2 separate regions of the Homo sapiens genome follow, and region 1 is linked to region 2. Evidence: fine-mapped expression QTL. A gene starts in region 2. The other region holds a variant in brackets. All regions are shown on one strand. Distances are from middle to middle.

Region 1 (10,327 bases), 28 kb before region 2:
CAAGTAAGAAAATACATCAAGGAGAATGGGAGCCAGGATTTGTAACTGTTAGAAAAGGAAGTTACAAGTATAGAAATGAGGAAGTCTAGAATAAACCCTACTGAAATTGAAATAGGAAATGTCAGATTGAGTTTAGAAGTATCAGTATGAACATGTAGTTTTTAATAGAGGTAGATGAAAGGAGAGATAGGGATAGATATACTAACAGACATTAATGTGTGTGGGTCTGTGTGTGTGTGTACGCACATACATGTATTTCCTAGCTCTGTCCTTTGACAGGACCTAAAGTAATGACACTCTGGAGCAGATTAACACCAAACTTTAGTTCTGAATTCTGACTTTTTAGTTTCTGAATTTTTATTCACAACAGGAGGAAACCAGGGCCTCTTGGAGAAATGGCGATTCCAGAGCAGGGAAAATACAAAATGAACCAGAACATCTTGTGCCTCCAAATAAAGAAATGCTCAGGAATGATAGACACCTGTTATAAGGACACAGGAGCTGGCTTGAATGATCTCCTACTGGCTGACCTGAGATAATTTTAGCATTAAAATGATTAATGATGGTAAATCAATTAGAAATGAATAGTCATAATGAAGGAAATAGGAATCCATAATGATATAAATAATTATATAAATAAATGTTGGAGAAAGGAAAGCTCTACCTTACAATAGAATACCAACAAATATTAATTGCAAATAAGCACAAAATAATTATCCTTACAGTGAAGAAGTCATACTGACATTATCTTACAAGTGATGTAGACAGATATACAGAAAGGTATCTTACTCAAGATAATATCACCAGTAATGGGGCAAACTGACAAACATTACGTGCCTCCTGATATGACGCACTGAGAAGAACATAGCACCACTTCTGTGGTAGTCCTGCAAAAGACATATAACCTTACCCAAATCAAGAGGAAACAATTATACACTCAAATTGGCCTGCTCATGTCAGAAGTATCAAGGTCATAAAAGACAAGGAAAGACTGAGGAACTGTTCCATATAAAAGGACATGACAACCCAGTCCAACACATAATCCAGGATTGGATTGTGGTCCTATAACAAACATTATTAGGACAACTGATGCATTTAAATGAGATCTCTAGATTACACGGGAGTATTATAACAAAATTTCTTGATTTTGATAGTTACACTGCAGTTATGTTGGAGAAAGCCATTGTTTTTAGGAAATACTCAGTGAAATGCTAAAAGAGTAATAAGGTATTATGTCTTCAACTTACTCTCAAATGATTCAGAATAAGAAATAATTGTATGTAGAAAGAATAAAGTAAATGTCAAATTTAACAATCGGGGAACCATTGCTGAATGAGGAGGGTCACGTGCATCAGTGTGAAGAGACCACCAAACAGGCTTTGTGTGAGCAACAAGGCTGTTTATTTCACCTGGGTGCAGGCAGGCTGAGTCCGAAAAGAGAGTTAGCGAAGGGAGATAGGGGTGGGGCTGTTTTATAGGATTTGGGTGGGCAGTGGAAAATTATAGTCAAAGGGGGTTTTTCTCTTCCAGGTAGGGGCGGGGGTCACAAGGTGCTCAGTGGGGGAGGTTCTGAGCGAGGAGAAGGAATTTCACAAGGTTAATCGCTCAGTTAAGGTGGGGCAGGAACAAATCACAATGGTGGAACGTCATCAGAACTGGCCATTTTCACTTCTTTTGTGATTCTTCAGGCCATCTGGATGTATACGTGCAGGTCACAGGGGATACGATGGCTTGGCTTGGGCTCAGAGCCCTGACAAGGAGAATTTGGGAGATCTTTGTATTACCGTTGCAACTTTTCTGTAAGTTTGAAATTATTTCAAACTAAAAAATAAAAATACCTAGTTAAAGCTTAATAAAAACGTGCAAAATCTTTAGGGCAAAATCTTAAAAATACTAGAAAGGTATATAAGAGGCCTCAAAGAAATGAAAAGACTGCTATATACTTGAATAAAGATTTGCCATAAAGATGACTATTCGCCCTAAGTTAACATATATTTAAAACAATTCCAATTTTATATATAAAGTAATATAAACTAGTATTTATATATAAATATAAAACTGATGTGTTTAATTTGGAAATGAGACAAGCTGACTGTAAATTTTTTTTTTTGAGACGGGGTCTCACTCTGTCGCCCAGGCTGGAGTGCAGCAGTGCGATCTCGGCTCACGCAACCTCTGCCTCCTGCGTCAGCCTCCTGAGTAGCTGGGATTTCAGGTCCACACTATCACACCCAGCTAATTTTTGTATTTTTAGTAGAGACGGTGTTTCACCACGTTGGCCAGGCTGGTCTCAAACTCCTGACCTCAACTGATCACCCGCCTCGGCCTCCCAAAGTGCTGGGATTACTGGTGTGAGCCACCGCTCCTGGCCATAAAATTTATGTTAAAGAATTTATTTGTTTAAAAAGATCAAGAAAGTTCAGAAAGAGACAGGCAATGAGGGAGCACTAGCTCTATCAGATATTAATATGTTCTATAAAACCTAGATAATAAAAATATTGTGGCATGATATATGAATAGACAGACCATTTCAAGAGAATAGGTCAGCCATGGTGATTCACCTCTGTTATCTCAGCACTCTGGGAGGCCGAGGTGGGCAGATTACTTGAGGCCAGGAGTTTGAGACCAGCCTGGCCAACATGGTGAAACCCTGTCTCTACTAAAAATATGACAACTAGCCAGGCATGGTGGTGGGCCCTTGTAATCCCAGCTACTCAGAAGGCTGAGGCACGAGAATTGCTTGAATCTGGGAGGCAGAGGTTGCAGTGAGCCAAGATCGTGCCACTGCACTCCAGCCTGGGTGACAGAGTGAGACTCTGTCTCAAAAAAAAATTAAATTAAAATTAAAATTAAAATTAAAATACACAGAATAGAAGTCCAAGAAGTCAGTCACAAGCACATATGGGAATTCTGTCTGCAATAAAGATGGTGTCTTGAGTCAGTGGAGAAAAGATGGACTTTCTTTTTTTCTTCTTTTTCTTTTTTTTTTTTTTTTTTTTTTGGAGACAGGGTCTGGCTCTGTTGCCTAGGCTGGAATGCACTGGCACAATCTCAGCTCTCTGCAACCTCTGCCTCCTGGGCTCAAGTGATCTTCCCACCTCAGCCTCCCAAGTAGCTGGGACTACAGGCACACACCACCATGCCTGGCTAATTTTTATATTTTCTGGAGAGACGGGGTTTAGCCGTGTTGCCCAGGGTAGTCTCAAACTCCTGAGCTTGAGATCCTCCTGCCTCGGCCTCCCAAAGTGCTGGGATTACACGCACAAGCCACGGCACCTGGCCAAAAAAGATGGACTGTTCAATAAAATTATTCTGGGAGACTTGTGTGGCCAACTACCAAAATTAGATGTAGACCTCACATCATTTATTAGTGTATTATTCTGTTCTCACATTGCTATAAAGAAATACCTGAGACTGGCCCTCTCCCTCTCCTCCCTCTCCTCCCTCTCCTCCCTCTCCCTCTCCCTCTCCCTCTGCCTCTCTCTCTCCCTCTCTCTCTCTTTCCACAGTCTCCCTCTGATGCCGAGCCAAAGCTGGACTGTACTGCTGCCATCTCGGCTCACTGCAACCTCCCTGCCTGATTCTCCTGCCTCAGCCTGCCCAGTGCCTGCGATTGCAGGCGCGCGCCGCCACGCCTGACTGGTTGTCGTGTTTTTTTGGTGGAGACGGGGTTTCGCTGTGTTGGCCGGGCTGGTCTCCAGCTCCTAACCGCGAGTGATCCGCCAGCCTCGGCCTCCCCAGGTGCCGGGATTGCAGACGGAGTCTCGTTCACTCAGTGCTCAATGGTGCCCAGGCTGGAGTGCAGTGGCGTGATCTCGGCTCGCTACAACCTCCACCTCCCAGCCGCCTGCCTTGGCCTCCCAAAGAGCCGAGATTGCAGCCTCTGCCCGGCCGCCACCCCGTCTGGGAAGTTAGGAGCGTCTCTGCCTGGCCGCTCATTGTCTGGGATGTGAGGAGCCCCTCTGCCTGGCTGCCCAGTCTGGAAAGTGAGGAACGTCTCTGCCCGGCCGCCATCCCACCTAGGAAGTGAGGAGCGCCTCTTCCCCGCCGCCATCCCATCTAGGAAGTGAGGAGCGTCTCTGCCCGGCCGCCCATCGTCTGGGATGTGAGGAGCCCCTCTGCCTGGCTGCCCAGTCTGGAAAGTGAGGAGCGTCTCTGCCTGGCCGCCATCCCATCTAGGAAGTGAGGAGCGCCTCTTCCCCGCCGCCATCCCATCTAGGAAGTGAGGAGCGTCTCTGCCCGGCCACCCATGGTCTGGGATGTGGGGAGCGCCTCTGCCCCGCCGCCCCGTCTGGGATGTGAGGAGCGCCTCTGCCCGGCCGCGACCCCATCTGGGAGGTGAGGAGCGTCTCTGCCCGGCCACCTCATCTGAGAAGTGAGGAGACCCTCTGCCTGGCAGCCGCCCTGTCTGAGAAGTGAGGAGCCCCTCCGTCCGGCAGCCACCCCGTCTGGGAAGTGAGGAGCGTCTCCACCCGGCAGCCACCCCGTCCGGGAGGGAGGTGGGGGTCAGCCCCTGCCAGGCCAGCCGCCCCGTCCGGGAGGGAGGTGGGGGGGTCAGCCCCCAGCCCGGCCAGCCGCCCCGTCAGGGAGGTGAGGGGCGCCTCTGCCCGGCCGCCCCTACTGGGAAGTGAGGAGCCCCTCTGCCCGGCCAGCTGCCCCGTCCAGGAGGGAGGTGGGGGGGTCAGCCCCCAACCCGGCCAGCCGCCCCGTCCGGGAGGGAGGTGGGGTCAGCCCCCCACCCGGCCAGCCGCCCCGTCCGGGAGGGAGGTGGGGGGTCAGCCCCCCGCCGGGCCAGCCTCCCCGTCCGGGAGGGAGGTGGGGGGGTCAGCCCCCCGCCCGGCCAGCCGCCCC[C/G]TCCGGGAGGTGAGGGGCGCCTCTGCCCGGCCACCCCTACTGGGAAGTGAGGAGCCCCTCTGCCCGGCCACCACCCCTTCTGGGAGGTGTACCCAACAGCTCATTGAGAACGGGCCATGATGACAATGGTGGTTTTGTGGAATAGAAAGGCGGGAAAGGTGGGGAAAAGATTGAGAAATCGGATGGTTGCCGTGTCTGTGTAGAGAGAAGTAGACATGGGAGACTTTTCATTTTGTTCTGTACTAAGAAAAATTCTTCTGCCTTGGGATCCTGTTGATCTGTGACCTTACCCCCAACCCTGTGCTCTCTGAAACATGTGCTGTGTCCACTCAGGGTTAAATGGATTAAGGGCGGTGCAAGATGTGCTTTGTTAAACAGATGCTTGAAGGCAGCATGCTCGTTAAGAGTCATCACCAGGCCGGGCGCGGTGGCTCACGCTTGTAATCCCAACACTTTGGGAGGCCGAGGTGGGCGGATCACAAGGTCAGGAGATCGAGACCATCCTGGCTAACACGGTGAAACCCCGTCTCTACTAAAAATACAAAAAAAATTAGCCGGGCGTGATGGTGGGCGCCTGTAGTCCCAGCTACTCGGGAGGCTGAGGCAGGAGAATGGCATGAACCCGGAAGGCGGAGCTTGCAGTGAGCCGAGATTGCGCCACTGCACTCCCGCCTGGGCCACAGAGCGAGACTCCGTCTCAAAAAAAAAAAAAAAAAAAAAAAAAAAAGAGTCATCACCACTCCCTGATCTTAAGTACCCAGGGGCACAAACACTGCGGAAGGCCGCAGGGTCCTCTGCCTAGGAAAACCAGAGACCTTTGTTCACTTGTTTATCTGCTGACATTCCCTCCACTATTGTCCTATGACCCTGCCAAATCCCCCTCTGCGAGAAACACCCAAGAATGATCAATAAAAAAATAAAAAATAAATAAAAAAAAGAAATACCTGAGACTGGGTGGTTTAAAAAGAAAAGGTTTAATTGGCTCACAGTTCCTCAGGCTGTACAGGAAGCATGATGCTGGCAACTACTCAGCTTCTGGAGAGGCCTCAGGAAACACACAATCATGGTAGAGGCGAAGGGGAAGCAGGGATGTCTTAAATGGGTAGAGCAAGAGCAAGAGAGAGACTGGGGGGGGCAGGTGGTGCTACATACTTTTAAACAACCAGTTCTCATGATAGCTCACTCATTTCCTGTCATGAGAACAGCACCGAGAGGATGGTGCTAAATCATTCACAGAGGATCCACCCCTATGATTCAATCACCTCCAACCAGGCCCTGCCTCCAACTCTGGGAATTACAATTGAATGTGAGATTTGAGTGGGGACATAGATTCAAACCGTGTCAATCAGGATAGATTCCCCAATGCATCAAAGACTTAAGTGTCAAAAATGAAGTCATAAGAAGTACCAGAACAGTAAATTCTTTTATAACATCATAGTAGAAAAGTCTTCCTAAAGCCATAAATAAAACAATTGATGTTTTCAACTACAAAAACAGGGAACATGTCTTCATAGAAAGAAAATTAACAATATAAATAAAGATTAACGAGAAATAACAAACTGGAGGAGAGGATTTGTACCTCATATTACAGCAAAGGGTGAATCCCTCTAGTGTAAAAAGAGTTTCTGGAATTTGACAAGGAAAAGACCAACAGATGAATGATCAGTTCACAGACATAGAAATATGAGTGATTCTTAAATATATGAAAATTGCTAATTAAAACTACCTTTCAATACCATTTTCCATTATGGCCAAAATACAAAAATTTGACAAATATAATTGGTGAGGCATGGGGACCATGGGGAAATGCCTAGGCACTCTTGGATATTGCTGGTGGAAGTACAGACTTTAGGGAAAATAATCTGGGAACATCTATTAAAATTACAAAATTGCTGGTGTGATTCCATCCTGTGCAGCTGTTCTCTTGAGCAGTGGTCATTTATCTCTGTCCCCCTTCTCTGCCACCTAAGTGCGTGCTGCCACCCGATGGAAGATTTGATGGACATGGACATGAGCCTCCTGAGGCCCTAGAACTATCTTTTCGGTTGTGAACTGAAGGCCAACAAAGATTATCACTTTAAGGTGGATAATGATGAAAATGAGCACCAGTTATCTTTAAGAATGGTCAGTTTAAGGCTGGGCGCGGTGGCTCATGCTTGTAATCCCAGCACTTTGGGAGGCTGAGGTGGGTGCATCACGAGGTCAGGAGTTTGAGACCAGCCTGGCCAAGATGGTGAAACCCCGTCTCTACTAAAAATACAAAAATTAGCTGGGCATGGTGGCACATGCCTGTAGTCCCAGCTACTTGGGAGGCTGAGGCAGCAGAATCACTTGAATTCGGGAGGTGGAGGTTGTGGTGAGCCGAGATCGTGCCATTGCACTCCAGCCTGGGCGACAAAGCGAAACTCTGTCTAAAAAAAAAAAAAGAACGGTCAGTTTAGGGGCTGGTGCAAAGGATGAATTGCACATTGTTGAAGCAGAGGCCATGAATTACGAAGGCAGCCCAATTAAAGTAACACTGGCAACTTTGAAAATGTCTGTACAGCCAACGGTTTCCCTTGGGGGATTTGAAATAACATAACCAGTGGTCTTACAGTTGAAGTGTGGTTCAGGGCCAGTGCATATTAGTGGACAGCACTTAGTAGCTGTGGTAGAAGATGCAGAGTCAGAAGATGAAGAGGAGGAGGATGTGAAACTCTTAAGTATATCTGGAAAGCGGTCTGCTACTGGAGGTGGTAGCAAGGTTCCACAGAAAAAAGTAAAACTTGCTGCTGATGAAGATGATGATGATGATGATGATAATGATGATGATGAAGATGATGATGATTTTGATGATGAGGGAACTGAAGAGAAAGCACCAGTGAAGCAATCTATACAAGACACTCTAGCCAAAAAAGGACAAAAATTAAATCAGAATGGAAAAGACTCAAAACCATCATTAACACCAAGATCAAAAGGACAAGACTCCTTCAAAAAACAGGAAAAACTCCTAAAACACCAAAAGGACCTAGTTCTGTAGAAGACATCAGAGCAAAAATGCAAGCAAGTATAGAAAAAGTGCATTGAACAGTCCTGGGCACTACTGGTAAATTAAGCCCAAAGATGGGGAGAAAGGAAAAGGAGAGACCAATATAGTCCATACTGAGTGTCATCAACAATCCAGACTGAAGTCTTCTATTTTAATCCCAATCCCCTTTTCTGATTTGCCACCCATGCCTCTTCAGGCTGGAAACAATCTCACTCTTGGTTCCCTAAAGCACTTTCTTCTGACTGCTGTGATTCGGTGAACCTTGCCCTTTGCTTTCTATTACTTGTGCATTTGCATCACCTCTGACCATGTTTTTTTTTTTTTTTTTTTTGAGACAGAGTCTCACTGTCTCCCAGGCTGGAGTGCAGTGGCACGATCTCGGCTCACTGAAAGCTCTGCCTCCTGGGTTCACCCTGCCATTCTCCTGCTTCAGTCTCCCGAGTAGCTGGGACTACAGGCGCCCGCATGCATGCCCGGCTAATTTTTTGTATTTTTAGTAGAGACGGGATTTCACCATGTTAGCCAGGATGGTCTCGATTTTCTGACCTCGTGATCCACCTGCCTCGGTCTCCCAAAGTGCTGGGATTACAGGCGTGAGCCACCGCGCCCGGCCACCTCTGACCATGTTTTAAATCACCTTTGTATCTCCTTAGCTGTTCAATAAATATTTGAATGAATAAAAAAATTACAAAATTATTTACCCTGTGATCCAATAATCATACTTCTGGAGATTTATTTATATAGACATATGAACAAGTTTATTCATTGCAGCATTTTGGTAAGAGCAAAATGAGAGCAGGTCAAGTCTCCATCAATAAGAACTGGTTAGCTGATGATACATCCATATCATAAAACACTATGTACATGAGAAGAAATAAAAAAAGAAGCGTTTTACTGTTACTGATAAAGCTGCATAATATGTTTTTAAATTAAAAGCAAGATGTAAGATGGTAATGAATGCAACTGAGTATGTTACAATATGCTTCCTTTTGTGAAGGAAAGAGGGGGAATAAAAATAGATATTCATGTTTTTTATACTTTTACATAATAACTCCAGAAAGGAAAAAAAAAAAGTCGTTATCTGTGGTAAGGAAAAGAGACAGACAGAGCAAGGATAGGAATGGGAGTTTTCACTGCATACCATTTATATTTGATTTTATGTCAATGTATTGCTTACTCAAAAAGAATAGAATGTAATAGTAACAAATATTGAAACATAAAGTTAAACCTCAATCTGCACAACCTGCCTTAAAGCGCCTTTAATCCACTTCCCTAACTGTTCCTTGCTCTCGTGTATCACACTACTTGCCTTCCTTTTCATCCAGTTTTCTCAAGCTAACTGAATCATGGTAAACATCCTTTTAACTGTGCCAGGAATTCACTTTTCTCCAGCCACTTTCTAAAGTCAAAAGTAGAGGGCAGCAGCCCAGGCATGGTGGCTCATGCCTGTAATCTCAGCACTTTGGGAGGCCGAGGCAGTTGGATCACCTGAGGTCAGGAATTCAAGACCAGCCTGGCCAACATGGTGAAACCCCATCTCTATTAAAAATACAAAAATTAGCAGGCATGGTGGCAGGCACCTGTAGTCCCAGCTACTCAGGAGGCTGAGGCAGGAGAATTGCTTGAACCCGGGAGGTAGAGGTTGCAGTGAGTCAAGATCATACCACTGCACCCCAGCCTGGGTGGCAGAGCGAGACTCCGTCTAAAAAAAAAAAAAAAGGTAGGGAGCAGCTGACAAGGCCATGAAGGAAAAAGACTAAAATGCACCCGTTTAAGTTATGCCCCTCTGGTAAATGTTCCCGTCACACTACACTTCTCCTTCATAACACTCATCACTCTTGTAATGTCCTCACGGCTCAGAAAAATCATCACTTTTTATTATTGTCATAGCTAAAATTTATTGAGAGTATTATAATCCAAAAACTGTAAAGTGTTTTACATAGACTAAAATCTCACCACTAACCTATTTACTATGATTATTTATTTAAAGATCAGGAGATTGATACCCAGAAAGAGTAAGTAACTTGGCGGAGGGTCATGTACCCAAATGACAGGGCAGAACCTATGTCCTTAATCCTTACACTCCGCCACCTGGGATAGTCATGGTGGCAAGAAATACCCTACTTTCACTTTCATTACTTTAAATGTTTAAACAACTTATTGTATCTAATCCATTAAAAAAAAGAAAATTAGTGTCTAAGGCATTACTTGGTACAAATATTAGAATACTGTAATTGAGAAAAAGAAGTTACATGAGAAGTATAATGTGGTGCCTGTATTAAGCCATTCTTGCATTGCTATAAATGCCTGCGACTGGGTAATTTATAAGAAAAGAGGTTTGACTGGCTCATGGCTCTGCAGGCTTTACAGGAAGCACGGTGCTGGCATGTGTTCAGCTTCTAGGGAGGCCTCCGGAAGCTTACAATCATGGCAGAAGGTGAAGAGGGA
Region 2 (10,327 bases):
TATCTCTCAGATATACTGCCACTGCTAATGATAAAGATGACTGCTAACATACACTGATAGTACAGAGCTAAGAGTGCAGGCAGCTTTGATCCAAACACTAGTTTTCCTGTGACCTAACCTCAGCTTCCTCATAAATAGAAAGTGAATAACAGCACTTATCACCTACAGTTGATGTGAGGATCAAATGGATTACTATTACAGTTAGAACACTCCCAACAATAGTGCTGGTTCTTCTCCTTCTCCTTCCGCCTTCTCCTTCTCCTCCTCCTCCTCCCCTCCCCCTCCTCCTTCTTCTTCTTTTTCTTTTTCTTCCTTTTTTTTGAGACAGTCTCACTCTGTCCAGGCTGGAGTGCAGGGGCATAATTTCGGCTCACTGCAACCTTCACCTCCCAGGCAGGCAATTTTCATGCCTCAGCCTCCCAAGTAGCCAGGACTACAGGTGTGCACCACCACACCTGGCTAATTTTTGTACTTTCAGTAGAGATGGGGTTTAACCATGTTGGCCAGACTGGTCTAGAACTCCTGGCCTCAAGTGATCCACCTGCCTCAGCCTCCCAAAGCGCTGGGACTACAAGCATGAGCCACCGCACCTGGCCTGGTGCTAGCTACTCTCATATGCCGAGTAACGTTCTAAATCTTCACATACTCTCTCTGGTTTTTATTCTTAAATTTCAGACTGAAGAAGTTTAACACAAAAAATATGTATTTAGATAAAAAATTCTGCAAATAAAATACAGGAGTTCCCCCTTATCCACAGAGGTAGTGCCAAGCTCCCCAGTAGATGGCTGAAAGCATTTCAGACTGAAGAAGTTTAACATACAAATGTTGTATTTAGATTTTTAAATTCCACAAATAAAATACAGGAGTTTCTCCTTATCCACAGAGCTGGTGCCAAGACACCCTGGGTGCCTGAAACCACAGATAGAACCAAACTCTATATATACTACGTTTGTTCCTGTACATACATACCTATGATAAAGTTTAATTTATAAGTTAGGTACATGAAGAGATTAATAATATTTTATTATACTTTAATAATAAAATAGGACAATGGTAGTCATATACTGTAATAAAATTATGTGAATGTGGTCTCTCTGATTTCAAAGTATCTTATTGAACTGTGCTGCAGGTAACTGAAACCTCAGAATGTGAAACCAGGGATAAGGTGGGGACTACTGTTGTGTCTAAACAGACTCATCCACATTCATTCCACAATTTGCCTTTTTCAATGTGATTCAGACATTTACACATGTGTACCATGAATTCAGTAGTTTTTGACTGCTGTAAATTTCCTTTTGGAGAAAGTAGGATGACACTGTCATTGCAGTGAAAGACCAGTAGATGGCCATCCACAGACCCACACAAATACCTGCAGTATTTACAAGATAATTGTCTTTACAAGATAATTGTCTTTACAAGATAATTTTAAAAGATCTGCAAAAATTAGTAAAGAAAGGCTATACATAGGGATATTGAAAACACAAATTTCATAAAGTTGTTAGGAATATTTCAAAAGTTAAAATGAACCTGCTATCTAATTCAATGTTTTTCACACCGAAATCCTCATTCGGCTGTTGGAGGAAATATCTGTTTGGGTACAACCTTCCCAGAAGGCAACTTACTTAATACCAAAGTATTTTAAATGTGCTTATTCTTTGATTAAGCCATCAGAGGATAAGTTATTTAGTAATTGACCTAAGGCATTAAGTAGGAGCTAAAATATTCATCTACAATAGTGGCTCTCAACCGGGCATTATTTTTACCCACAGGGACTGTTGACAATGTCTGGAGGCATGTTTGATTGTCACCAGTGGAGGAGTGGGGTTGCTCCTAGCACCTAGTGAGTATAGAGGCCAGAAATGTCGCCAAACCTCCTAAATGCGTAGGACAGTCCCCCAAAGCAAAGAATTATCCGGCCCCCAAAATGTCCATTGTGCTGAGATTGAGAAACCCTGATCTACCAGGATTTACCTCATGATATTGTTTATAGACTGCAAAATGGGAAAACCAGCCTAAATGCCTAAAAACAGAAGACAGGTTCAACAAATCCTAAAAGAATCATTCATACAATTCATGATAACACCGTCATTAAAAGACATGTTGGCCTGGCGTGGTGGCTCATGCCTGTAATCCCAGCACTTTGAGAGGCCAAGGCCAGTGGATCACCTGAGGTCAGGAGTTCGAGACCAGCCTAGCCAACATGGCAAAACACTGTCTCACCTGAAATACAAAAGTTAGCCGGACGTGGTGGTGGGTACCTGTAATCCCAGCTACTCGGGAGGCTGAGGCAGGAGAATCACTTGAACCTGGGAGGCAGAGGTTGCAATGAGCTGCGATCATACCACTGCACTCCAGCCTGGGCAACAGAGCAAGACTGACTCCTCAAAAAAAAAAGAAAAGAAAAGAAACATACATTGAATGATGGAATTATGTATTTTCTTCTTATTTTTGGCTTATTGTTGTTACTTTTTTCTCCAATGGATATCTCACATCTAGTATTCAAACATAACTTTTTTTTTTTTTTTGAGATGGAGTTTCGCTCTTGTTGCCCAGTCTGGAGTGCAATGGCACGATCTCGGCTCACTGCAACCTCTGCCTCCTGGGTTCAAGCGATTCTCCTGCCTCAGCCTCCCGAGTAGCTTAGATTACAGGAGCCCGCCACCACACCCGGCTAATTTTTGTATTTTAGTAGAGACAGGTTTTCAGCACGTTGGTCAGGCTGGTCTCGAACTCCGATGTCAGGTGATCCACCCACCTCGACCTCCCAAAGTACTGGGATTACAGGTGTGAGCCACCGCGTCTGGCCCAAACATAACATTTCAAAGAGAAATTGGGGGCCACAGAAGCTGCTAGTTTTCAAGAGAAAAATACGGCAAAGTGTTTGAAACTAAAACTAATAAACTTTAAAATTCCCAAACCTCACTAGATCCCACCTCCTGACTCTAGTAGTCTACTGTCTGCTTCTACAAATTTGACTTTTTTTGACTCCACATATAAGTGAACTCACACAGTATATTTATCTTTAGTAGAGACAGGGTTTCACCATGTTGGCCAGGCCGATCTCGAGCTTCTGACTCCAGGTGACCTACCCGCCTCAGCCTCCCAAAGGCTAGGATTACAGGTGTGAGCCACCATTCCCGGCCAGAATTTCCTTCTTTTTTAAGGCTGAATAATATTGATCCATTCAGGCTGGGCACGGTGGCTCACACCTGTAATCCTAGCACTTTGGAAGGCTGAGGTGGGCAGATAACCTGAGGTCAGGAGTTCAAGACCAGCCTGGCCAACATGGTGAAACCTCGTCTCTACCGAAAATACAAAAATTAGCCGGGCATGGTGGTGCCTGCCTGAACTTCCAGCTACTTGGGAGGCTGAGGCAGGAGGATTGCTTGAACCCAGGAGGTGGAGGTTGCAGTGTGCCGAGATCGCACCACTGCGCTCCAGCCTGAGCAACAGAGTAAGACTCTGTTTCCAAAGAAAAAAAAGATCCATTCATCTGTTGCTGGACACCTAGGTCATTTCCTGACCTTAGCTACTGTAAATAATGCTGCAATAAACATGGGAGTGCAGGTATCTCTTCTAGATACCAATTTCATTTTCTTTGGGTATATACCCAGAAGTGGGATGGCTGGTTCACATGGAAGTTCCATTTTTAATTTTTTGAGGACCCTCCATACTGTTTTCCAAAAAAAAAAAATTTCCATTACTTTTGTCTAATATTATCTTAACCATTTGTTTCCTTAGTTCTAGTCACATCAGCCATTTTTCACATACCTGCTGGGCCACATTTTGCTTTTCTCTATAAAGAAATTTCCTCGTTTACTATCAAAGTAGTTAACTTGTTCACCAGTTCCTCAAATACTTAAAGGATGAGGTAAGCCTAAGAAAAAGATGTACCAGATTTGTTATAAAAAAAAAATCACACTTGTACAAAATTACAATTGTACTTCTCAATGAAATTCCTTCATTGAATTTCCAGTCATCTTTGAGCATTAGTAAAACATGAATGCCGCTGTATATGTTCACTTAAAATATGCACAGTCACCTCCAGGCAGTACTACAGCGGTGGCTGATCACACCCCAGGGAGCAGGGCAATTGTGCTTTTGTCTATTTGTCGCACACAGCCATACCAATAAGTTAAACCTCTAAGTTATGAAGTCTCAGGTTACAGCTAGCACAATAAGAATGCAGGTTTTCAGAATTTCTGCTGAAAATTCTACTAAGAGAGTATTTACAGACAATGGATTACATTTAAAAATAACTGAACTGGGGCCGGGATAGGTGGCTCACACCTGTAATCCCAGCACTTTGGGAGGCCAAGGCAGGCAGATCGCGAGTTCAGGAGATTGAGACCATCCTGGCTAACACGGTGAAACACCGTCTCTAGTAAAAACACAAAAAATTAGCTGAGAGTGGTGCCACGTGCCTGTGGTCCCAGCTACTCGGGAGGCTGAGGCAGGAGAATTGCTTGAACCCAGGAGGTGGAGGTTGCGGGGAGCCAAAATCGTGCCACTGCATCCAGCCTCGGCGACAGAGCGAGACTCCATCTCAAAAAACAAACAAACAAAAAACCCAAAAAACTGAACTGGAAAACATCCAAATTTGAAAATTTAAAATAATTGTTAAAATGGCAGCAAAAAACCTCATACGTATCGTGAGCCAAAGAAACCCAGTTATTAGTTATGTTCCAATTATCACCAAATAAGACAATGCTATTATTTGATTAAAGTTTCAAACATAATTTCCTACCAAGGAACAGAAGACAAAACCTCAAGAAAGAGTCCTGACGGGGCGAGCGCGGTGGCTCACGCCTGTAATCCCAGCACTTTGGGAGGCCGAGGCGGGCCTGAGATCTGGAGTTTGAGACCAGCATGATCAACATGGAGAAACCCCGTCTCTACTAAAAAAAAAAAAAAAAAAAAAAAAATTAGCCGGGCATGGTGGCGCATGCCTGTAATCCCAGCTACTCCGGAGGCTGAGGCAGGAGAATCGCTTGAACCCAGGAGGCGGAGTTTGCGGTGAGCCGAGATCGCGCCATGGCACTCCAGCCTGGGCAACAAGAATGAAACTCCGTCTCACAAAAAAAAAAAAACAAAACAAACAAAAAAAAAAAACAACAAACAGGCCTGGACGGAGGGGTCAGAGCTCTGTCCCTCCCCATTTCAGAGTGTTTGAGCAAATAACTCTTTCGGCTCAGAGCTTCAGGTGGAAAGTAATATGAGATGATTTTACTCTTCTTTCTGCCCTGTATCAAAATCCATCTCAGTGATTTCCACGTATTTAGCCCCGGCTTCTTGCTCAGGTGTAGGTGAGCTCACCCTGCGCTCTCTCCCACTGCTCAGCTCAGTTGACCATTCGGGTTTTCCACTATACTTGGTCACTTATGTGATTATGAACAGATGTTCAGTATTAAGAAGACCCTGGGGGATCTTATCCAATGACTTTATCCAACAGAAAGGAGATGAGGTATCAGGACTGGGTGGCTAGCCAGGTTCCAGGCCGGGCCTCAGGATAGCTGCGCAGCCTGGCATTTTCGCCTCACTTTCCAGAAGGACGAGAAGCCAAGTTCAGGTCCTTTCCAGAAATAGATGTAGATACTTCTGCTGGACTGGGAAGCCAGGAGCTGAAATATCACAACAGGACGTTTCAGGCTATGAAAAATAACTGCTTACTAATTCTAACGTAAGTTATCCAGATTACGAGAAGCATTTCTGCCAATGCTCATGTCAGCTAAGCTCAGAGAAGTTACCTCATCCTCAGAGAGCAACGAATGGTATGGTCTATGTAGAAAGCAAAATTTGCAACGGAAAAACCAGAGTTCGTGTGCACTTTATGAGGAAGAGGGTTAGGTGCACCAGACAGAGGAGTTTCTCAGGTTTCCGTGTCGCCTGTTCTCTCGACCAGGTGGCCCTCTCGGCGCAGGCGGGGACCCCACCCTGCGGGACTTCGGCTCCTCCGTGCGGACAGGGGGCGCCCGCAGCCGTGCCTTTCCCGCCAACTCCACTAGTGCTCCAGCTCGCCCTTGTGCGACCGCCTCTAGGGCCCGGGATATTTCCTGTTCCGGGGCGTGTGGGACCCGGATGCAAGCGTGCTATATAAGCGTTGCTCAAGTCCCACCCCTTTCTTTTTGAGGAAGACGCGGTCGTAAGGGCTGAGGATTTTTGGTCCGCACGCTCCTGCTCCTGACTCACCGCTGTTCGCTCTCGCCGAGGAACAAGTCGGTCAGGAAGCCCGCGCGCAACAGCCATGGTGAGGCGGCAGTCGGCGGCGGGCGGCGCAACGCAGGGCTCGGGCGCCGGGGGGACCCCGGTTTCGAGTTCGTGCTCCTGAGGGCAGATGCCGGGGCGTGTAGGGGCGGAAAGGCGCTCCTGAAATGGTGGGGAAACGCGGGAAGCTTCCGGAAGCTGCCTTTCTCCAGAAGTGGCAGACCATTTTTGGCTTATTGTTCTTTTTCATGTATCTAATAATAGGCTTTTAAGGATACCGGAAAAACACCCGTGGAGCCGGAGGTGGCAATTCACCGAATTCGAATCACCCTAACAAGCCGCAACGTAAAATCCTTGGAAAAGGGTCAGTGCATTCGTTATGCGGGGGGGAGGGGGAATTGGGCGAAAAGCGACGAGCTTTACTCGTTAATGTTAGTGTAGAAGGTGGACTGCAAGAACTAAAGTGACAAGTTACTTAAAAAAGTAAAGCGTGGCTTAAAATTGCTTTTACTGTCATACAGCTGGCGATGAGGAGGTACCTATTGTGTTGAGTAACGGTGATAATTTTATACGCTATTCTGAGCCAGCAGAAGTGAAGGCCTTAAGCCGATTTTAATTGTTTCGATTATACTGAGAGGTCTTTTATTTCCTGTAGTGTGTGCTGACTTGATAAGAGGCGCAAAAGAAAAGAATCTCAAAGTGAAAGGACCAGTTCGAATGCCTACCAAGGTAAAGTAAATCGGAGGGGCAGGAAGTAGGAGTTGCTTCCGGATGTTGCATAAATTCAGGTTCTTTAAGGAGTTCGGCTGCCAAAATTGTTAACACTGATGCTGTCTACAAACGCACATAGAAATCGGTGGTAGATTGCGGTTCCTAGTAAGTAGCTAATGTTTAGATATGATTGTTGAATTATTGTTGCTGTGTTCTTGGTGTGCTTTGGTGCTTAACAGGCGCAAGCTCTAAGGGTGGTGTCCTAGCACAGTGAAAACAGACCTGGCATTTTCAACCCATGGTACCTGAAAATCTATTAGTGTAAATTGGAATCATACCAAAGGGAAACTAATGAAATGATTAGAAGTAATGATTTTCCAGATGTTCTAGGGATAAGTATAAAACGATAAACACTTGGTTTCCTTTGTCTTTTGTTACAGACTTTGAGAATCACTACAAGAAAAACTCCTTGTGGTGAAGGTTCTAAGACGTGGGATCGTTTCCAGATGAGAATTCACAAGCGACTCATTGACTTGCACAGTCCTTCTGAGATTGTTAAGCAGATTACTTCCATCAGTATTGAGCCAGGAGTTGAGGTGGAAGTCACCATTGCAGATGCTTAAGTCAACTATTTTAATAAATTGATGACCAGTTGTTAACTTCTGTTGGTTTTTATTCAGAATACTGGCAGATTTTAGGAATATAAAGGTGTACTATGAGACTTCCACTTTTCAGGTGGAATATATGGGTATCTTAGAGTGGTCTATCCTGTTTTCGTTGTCGTTTGAGTCATTTGAAAACTGGATTCCGTTAACTACATAATATGTGAGACCTGACTGGTTTTATTGGACACTGGCAGTTTATAACTTTGGCATACTCTAGATAAATTCTGATTGGTATGGGGTGTTAAGGTTTCTGGGGCGTTTGTAATGCACACCCATGGTTGAGAACCTAGTGCGCTAGTAGGCACGTGTTAAAAAGCTAGTAACTAATATTTTTAAATTAACCAAGTTTAACGTCCTTAAAAAAGGATTAAGTGGCAGAGGCAGGACTAAAACTAAGTTTTAGGGTTTTAGGAACTAAAACTTAGTTTAAAAATACTTATATTTTCAGTGTTTTATATTTTAAATATAAAATTTTCACTTTTTTTTTTTGGGGGGGGGGACGGCGTTTTGCTCTGTGGCCCAGGCTGGAGTGCAGTGGTGTGTTCTTGGCTCACTGCAACCTCTGCCTCCCAGGTTCAAGCAATTCTCCTGCCTCAGCCTCCCAAGTAGTTGGGATTACAAGTGCCTGCGACCAAGCCTGGTTAATTTTTTATTTTATAGTAGAGATGGGGTTTTGTCCTGTTGTTCAGGCTGGTCTCAAACTCCTGACCTCAGGTGATCCACCTGCCTCAGCCTCCCAAAGTGCTGGGATTACAGGCATGAGCCACCATGCCTGGCCCATTTTCACTTTTACATTTTTTAAAAATACTTATATTTTCAGTGTTTTAGACAGGGTCTCTGCAGTCCAGGCTGGAGTGCAGTGGTGTGATCACTGCAGCCTTGACCTGGGCTCATGCAATCCACCTCAAACTGCCTAGTAGCTGGGACTTAACAAGCATGTGGCTACCATGCCCAGCTAATTGTTTTTTGTAGAGGTGAGGTTTTGCCATGTTGCCCAGGCTGGTCTGGAACTCTGAAGACTCAAACCATCAGCCTGTGTTAGCCTACTAAACTGCTGGTGTTACAGGAGTGAGCCACTGTACCCAGCCTAGAATTTAAAATCAGATAGATACCCTTACAGGTTTGCTAAACTTATTGGGGAAAGTTTCTATAGATTTATTGTGGAAAAATGGAACATCTACAAATTGTTAAGATTGCCTTCAGAAAATTTTTGAAATTTTTAATAGGATCAAAGTTGGGTAATTCAAGTTTTTTCTTTTTGGATTTGGGCCTAGGCTTTCACGCTGAACTCTGCTATCTTTTCAAATTGACCTTCAGTTGAGATTTCTGTATACAACCAACTGCATGCTAGGCACCTGCAACCCACAGCTGAAAAGCTAATGTGTCTAAAATGAAATCTTCCCTCCCAGAAGCTCTGTCCTGTGTTCCTAGTCTGAATCCATTGTCTACTGAAGTCTCACAGTTCAAACTGGAGTCACCCCTTGCCCCTCCCCTACTGCTGTTACCCAACATCCAATTCCTTCTGAGTCTACTTCAGATCTCAAGACAAACCCAGTTAACATCAAGGATTTGAATGGAACTGAGTCTGGAATGAATTATGCCACATTGCTAAATTTAAACCAAACAGTTGATCTTTGGGAGCTGTTTAGCTATCAGTTAATAAGACCATTTTAAAATGGAATACCTATCAATACGTGGCCCCCAGACAAATACCTATGAACTTTTAGTGCAGCATAGCAGTCTTTAGAGCACACATGTCTTGAGAACTGACTGAGGAAATGAAATTCTGAAAAAAATGTCACTAAAGTCCAGAGAACATATACTGTGAAAAATACACTTCAGTAAATCAGAAAATAGTGGAAGGACAGCTTCATGGCTTTCACGGAATTGTGAACATGAGCAGTTGTGTTTTTTCACAATGGTTAAAGTGTTGGATTAAAGCTATACGTAATTGAGAACCTGTATTACAGCTAAAATAGCACTAAAAAATTTGAAACTGCTGTTATCTTCAATTTCTCAAACACTTAAAAATACCTGCATGGAAATAAAACTGCAGGGCCTTTGAATATAGGGAATTCAGGATAGATTAAATAGTGGTAATGATGCCAATAATTCTATGCAAGTTAACAGGCCATCTTGTATGGATGGGAGTTAAAGGAAGGTTGAAAATAGGATATCTCTGCAGTGCTTACTCTATTTGGATTTGCAGAGCACTGCTTCTGGTGTAGAAATGTAAGCTAGCAATAACCAAGGGAACAGAAACCACCATGGCTGTTCATTGCTGGGTCAGAATTTTTTTTTTTTTTTTTTGAATTTAAATGGAAACAGTCTCGCTGTGTCACCCAGGTTGGAGTGCAGTCGTGCGAACATGGCTCGCTGCAGCCTTCAACTCCCTGGCTGAACCGATCCTCCTGCCTCAACCTCAAGTAGCTGGGACTACAGGCTCACACCTTGACGCTTGGCCTGGCTTTTTTTGTGGAGATGGGGTCTTGCCATGTTGCCCAGGCTGGTCTCAAACTCCTATGCTCAGGCGATCCACCCTCCTCGGCCTCCCATAGTGCTAGGGTTATAGGCAAGAGCCACTATACCCAGACTGGATTAGATTTCTTCACATGACATCCGTAGAGTGCCTGTGTGTATGCTCTGTGGATGTAAAATGAACAGGCAAGAGTACAGAAGTAGAATCTCTAGCCATGCAGTCAGACAGATGGCTCCAAAATTAGTTACTTGGTTATGGAGACGATCAA

Alleles and levels. Positions count from the first base shown, and alleles are read on the strand shown. Sizes are in standard deviations (SD) of each study's normalised expression.
In carriers of allele G in region 1, the expression in testis of the gene that starts at base 6,122 in region 2 tends to be higher than with C alone (moderate effect, 0.41 SD a copy in GTEx).

The links. PIP is the estimated chance that this variant, and not a neighbour inherited with it, causes the effect. A credible set is the group of variants that fine-mapping cannot tell apart.
Region 1: its variant is the best candidate, but not a certain one, in a credible set for the expression of RPS20 in testis (GTEx, PIP 0.52).

The regions. Positions count from the first base shown.
Region 1 is chr8:56,098,778-56,109,104 of GRCh38, reverse strand. It overlaps the pseudogene NPM1P21. Among named protein-coding and RNA genes, the nearest start is that of MOS, 10 kb to the left of the region's middle. The variant C/G (reference allele first, on the strand shown) is at 4,852.
Region 2 is chr8:56,070,301-56,080,627 of GRCh38, reverse strand. RPS20 (ribosomal protein S20) reads left to right here and starts at 6,122. Exons shown (of 4, transcript NM_001023.4): 1 at 6,122-6,247; 2 at 6,469-6,568; 3 at 6,860-6,933; 4 at 7,356-7,574. The coding sequence starts at 6,245. The coding sequence ends at 7,538. SNORD54 (small nucleolar RNA, C/D box 54) reads left to right here and starts at 6,727; the gene lies at 6,727-6,789. It overlaps CERNA3 (competing endogenous lncRNA 3 for miR-645), which reads right to left and starts at 6,036. Exons shown (of 2, transcript NR_149110.1): 1 at 5,748-6,036; 2 at 5,354-5,621.